Linked DNA regions of Homo sapiens: region 2 is linked to region 1. Evidence: fine-mapped expression QTL. Tissue or cell type: tibial nerve. Region 1 holds a variant in brackets; the other region holds the start of a gene. All regions are shown on one strand. Distances are from middle to middle.

Region 1 (2,712 bases):
GTTGATCTTCTACAAGAGTTCAAACAAAAAACAGACCATACCAGGATGATCACTTCAAACATGAGGATGGGTATAAGCTGACGTCAGACACAGGTATGGTGCCAAACCCTGGGATCTCTCTCTTTAACTGAGAGTCAGGGAGGGCTGATTGCTTCTATTCTCAGAAGATGGGAGAACGTATGCTGTTAGCAGAAATGTAAGAGGCAGTAAAGAAATACTAATAGGATGATGGCAGAAGCTTTACAGAAAATGTTCCTCAGGGATGAATTAAGGTTTTTCCAAAGTAACCTGACAGCACATTATGGAAAGCAACTGGGTTTTGGGTGTGGGCAGTCTTTAGATCAAATTCTGGCAGTTCTGTTCATTGGCTTTGTAATATTAGAATGTTAATGTTCTTGAATTGCAATGTTTTTAATGTATAAATTGTCAAAATGTTTTTCAGCAGGGTTGATGGGAGACCTACAGAAAATACATATAAATCATCAGACATGAAGTCCAGCACATAGTAGGTATTGAATAAATGGCAGTGAGTGGTCATGTCCAGAAATGAAGCCAAGAAGTTGAGCCTGGACTACTAAGAATCTGGTCTGAAGAATTTCAAAAAGGAGAATGGTTCTCCCTGATAACAAATAGTGATGAGTAAAACCAGACAAATTACATATGCCTCCCCCAAGTATGTACGTTTGGAATCAACTTGGTGGTTTTCTTCAGAGAAAAAATGTTTCATGTCTGCCTCCCACATTTAATTCTCCAACGTCTTTCTGAAATTATTTCAGAATGAAATGAGGCAGCATACTTGAGGTTAAATTCAATAAAAAATATCTGAAGCATAAAAATACGATTATAGACTTCACAGTAGTTTTTTCCCTCTGAGTCTGTAGAACTTGATAGAGTTTATGCTAAGCAAAATGACTGCAGATAACTAACAACAGGTCTCATATTAGACTTTGATTTTTGAAGTATCATAAGCTATTTTTCTTTATTTCAAACATAGACTTTACTTTTTAGAGCAGTCTCTGTGGGTTTTGACAAATGTATAATGACATGCATCTGCCACTGTAGTATCACACAGAACAGTTTCACTGCCCTAGAAGTTTCCTGTGTTCTGTCTGTTCCCTGTCTCCCCCCAAATCCCTGCTGACCGCTGATCTTTTTACTGTCTCCCTAGTTTTGTCTCCATCGAAGGTCATATAGTTGGAGTCACACAGGGTGTAGCTTTTTCAGATTGGCTTCTTTCACCTGGTAGAACATATGCATGTAAGGTTCCTCCATGTTGTTTTGGTTAGGTTTTTGTGGCTCGATAGCGCACTTCATTTTAGCACTGCATATTCTATTGTCTGAATGCACCACAGTTTATGC[A/C]CTCACCTACTGAAGGATATCTTGGTTGCTTACAAGGTTTGGAAATTATGAGTAAAGCTGCTACAAACATCTGTGCGCAGGTTTTTTGTGGATAGACGTTTTCAACTTATTTACGTAACGACCAAAGAGCACAATTGCTGGATCATATGCCAGGAGTCTTCTGAGAAACTACCAACCTGTCTTCCAGAGTGACTGTACCATTTTGTATTCAAACGAGCAGTGAATGAGAGTTCCTGCTGCTCTGCATCTCCGTCAGCATTTGATGTTGTCAGTGTTCTGGATTTTGGCCATCTTAATAGCTGTACAGTGGGATCTTGTCATTGCTTTAATTTGCATTTCTTTGATGAAGTATGATGTGGAGCATCTTTTCATGGGCTTATTTGCCACCTGTATATCTTCTCTGGTGAGATGTCTTTCAGGTTTTTTGCCCATTATTTAATTGGGTTACTCATTTTCTTATTGTTGAATTTTAAGAGTTGTTTGTATATTTCAGTTGTGTTCTTTATCGAATGTGTCTTTTGCAAGTATTTTCTCTCAGTCAGTGGCCTGTCTTCTCATTTTGTTTTAAGCTATTCTTTTTTAACACCCCAAGATTTTCATCGTTACTTTTTTTTTTTTTTTTTTTTTTTTTTTTTTTTTTTTTTGAGACGGAGTCTCGCTCTGTCGCCCAGGCCGGACTGCGGACTGCAGTGGCGCAATCTCGGCTCACTGCAAGCTCCGCTTCCCGGGTTCACGCCATTCTCCTGCCTCAGCCTCCCGAGTAGCTGGGACTACAGGCGCCCGCCACCGCGCCCGGCTAATTTTTTGTATTTTTAGTACATCGTTACTTTTAAGACCACTGTGCACACATAAAATACTAAAAGCTAAACTTAATATCTGCAGGTAGAAGTTTTAAATTCAAGATTTTAACCAAATAACAGAGTTAATGCTAAAATCTCACTTTTGAAGTTTATGTTGAATATTAGCATTCTAATATTTAATATTTTTCTATTTTTGAAATAGGAAATGGAAAAGATGCAGTAGGTTTTTCAAAAGGGTATCATAGGTGAGCACTTCTTATAGAAGAAGAAAACTAAGAGGTAGTGCTATTTACCTCTTCAGCACTAAGTTTATCTTTATTTTTATTTATTTCTATAAAGAGATGGGAGTCTCACTGTGTTGCTTAGGCTGGTCTTGAACTCCTGGCCTCCAGTGATGCTCCTGCCTTGGCCTCCGAGAGTGCTGGGATTATAGGCATGAGGCACCACACCCAGCCAGTAATCTTTAGCTTCTAGAAACAATCAGATTTCCTTAAGATTTTGCAATTAGGTTTAGAGGAGCTCACTTGCTTTTTCAAATATGGGTTGGATATGT
Region 2 (2,500 bases), 50 kb after region 1:
TGTCTTGGCTTCAATTTGAGATTTCTAACACACTCTGGTGGCTTTTAAGTGTTGGAAAATATGATAGTTTCAAAGCAGACAGAGTGATATTTTCCCTTTGTAAATATGCCGTCATATTCTCTGGCATTTTTATAGGTAATCCACTCTGCAAGTATTATAAGCCTTTGCATTTGCTGGGATGTTCCCATAACATGCTTCGCTTTTCTGGCATAAAAATAGCTCTTGTATGACTTTCAGAAACAGACTTTCAGTCCAAGACTTTCCTTACATTGGAGATGGCTAAGGGACAAAAGTGGAGACCTGTACTCCATGGGAATTATTCTTGTACTTTTCCACCCTGCCTGCTATCTTCCGCTTTAATAGGAATACTTAAAGTGCTCTTATTACAAATATCACTGTTCACTTAGATATGAAAAACAGTGTGCTTTGATAATGACTTTTCTTATACTCTTAGTAAAAGAGTGATAATATTTCTTCATCATCATAACAGCTAGTAATTATTAAGCACTTACTAGTCCAGGCGCTCTGCTAGAAGAGTTTACACTGTGTCATTTAATTCTCAAAGCAAACCATTGGGTTAGGTCTATTCTTACCCCCAATTTTTTAGGTGAGGAGTGAGCAGCTCTGCTCCATAAATGCTACGCTCTGATGCCTGCCCATTGATCTTGACTTAATTTTCATGCAAAACCTGTTAATGCTTTAAAAGGTAAATATACATTCCAGTAATTATAACAGTAAACACTTGCACTCAGATGAATTTTATCTTAAGTTTCCATTACACACAGAATAAGGCCATTGAATAGCGATTCCAATAGATGATTTACTGAGCTCATGAACAAGCCAACAGCAAGGAGTGATCTGTAAGTACTTACTTCAGAAAGTCCATTTATGGGGATTTCGAAGCCTGATACTTCAGAAAGAAAGAAGCAGATGAAAAAGCACGTGAGTCTTTTCATTTTGCTGGACAGTTTTGCCAAGCTCCCCAAAGCAGATGGTCTGGGGAGGATATCACTTCTTCCTACTGAACCAAGTTCAAAGGAACAGCAGAGGAGTACAGTTCGCTTTAAGAAAGAAGAAAAAAGAAGAAAAAACTCTCTAACTTTGTTCAAAATTGGGACAAATATTTGTTCTGGAGCTCAAACTTGAGCTGTGTGGGTGGATCGAACACCCAGAGGTTATTCAAACAGCAAAGTCAGAAGCAGTTGCTTACTGTGAGGACAAGTCAGGGGCAGATGGATGTGCTTGAATGTGCTTGTGTGCTTTTATTTTATTTTTATTTTTTATTTTTTGGCTTTTGCTGATTTCTATTGATCTTAAAATCAGAGAGACCTACAGATAATTGTCATCCTTTCTAAAGGACCAAGTGCAGAACTATTCCAAGAAACAAAATCCTTTGATCTAAATGAAAGCAGGAAAAATTTAGAAAAAGTGGGAGAAGACACAGAAGGGTTTTTCTGAGCAAAGAATTCATTGTGCATGTTTTCCCCTATCTCTTTGATGACTGTCTACCTGTTACCTATAAAGACCCAGGCAAGTGGCTGTGCAGGATACTAGGGCAGATCTTCAGTGAGAATGCTTCGTGAATGTCTTTGATTAAGGTAACAGTGTCTGTCCTGCTGCCCCTATCAGCCGGGCTCAGGTCAGTGGCAAATCAATACTCCCCAGTCTCAGAATTGGAGTGCAGTGGTGAGATCAAAGCTCATTGCAGCCTCAACTTCCCCCGGCTCAAGCAATCTGCCCACCTCAGCCTCCAGAGTAGCTGGACTACAGGTGTGCACTACACTGCCTGGCTATTTTTTGTAGAGATGGGATTTCATCATGTTGCTCATCCTGGTCTTGAACACCTGGGCTCAAGCTATCTGCTTGCCTCAGCCTCCGAAACTGCTGGGATTCCAGATGTGAGCCCCCATGCCTAGCCTCCATCCTGGTCAGATTCTATTTTTCTTGCAACAAACAGGAAATGTAACTTCTTGGATGCAACACTGAAATAGGAAGCTCCAGCTGTGGGCAGAATTACAATACAAGGGAGGTTGTCTTATCCTCAGGACCAAGCACCCCAGGCCAACTTCTGGGATCCTGGAGCTCCTTGCTACATTTAAAGCCCAATTCACAGGGCATGCAACAGAGAGTTTTCTGCATTTTCCTCCCTAGTTTCCCCTCAGTCTTCGAAATTGCACAGCCGTGTGTCTGCTGGAGAAACATAACTTCTGAAATAATGGAAGGGAGAAAACAGATTCTCCCCTCCCTTGCCTAGGTTGGACTAGTTGAGCGCCCACCTTGGCCAGTGAGTGCCTCAGTGGACCCCTCATGGAAAAATCCTGCCACAGCTTTGCATTCTTGACTGAGATACTGTTTCTGGAGAATTAAGACCCAATGGCAGCTGGGCGCGGTGGCTCACACTTGTAATCCCAGCACTTTGGGAGACTGAGGCGGGTGGATGACCTGAGGTCAGGAGTTTGAGACCAGCCTGGCCAACATAGTGCAACCCCGTCTCTACTAA

Direction of the effects. Positions count from the first base shown, and alleles are read on the strand shown. Sizes are in standard deviations (SD) of each study's normalised expression.
For the expression in tibial nerve of the gene that starts at base 1,075 in region 2, A is the low allele of the variant in region 1 and C is the other (moderate effect, 0.74 SD a copy in GTEx).

What was found. PIP is the estimated chance that this variant, and not a neighbour inherited with it, causes the effect.
Region 2: ITIH2 starts here. The variant in region 1 is fine-mapped to the expression of ITIH2 in tibial nerve (GTEx, PIP above 0.99). The same link has a PIP of 0.9 or more in cerebellar hemisphere, cerebellum, cerebral cortex, ileum, left ventricle and lung.

Annotation. Positions count from the first base shown.
Region 1 is chr10:7,751,333-7,754,044 of GRCh38, reverse strand. It overlaps KIN (Kin17 DNA and RNA binding protein), which reads left to right. Exons shown (of 13, transcript NM_012311.4): 13 at 1-2,712. Among named protein-coding and RNA genes, the nearest start is that of KIN, 35 kb to the left of the region's middle. The variant A/C (reference allele first, on the strand shown) is at 1,360.
Region 2 is chr10:7,701,891-7,704,390 of GRCh38, reverse strand. ITIH2 (inter-alpha-trypsin inhibitor heavy chain 2) reads right to left here and starts at 1,075. Exons shown (of 21, transcript NM_002216.3): 1 at 873-1,075. The coding sequence starts at 956.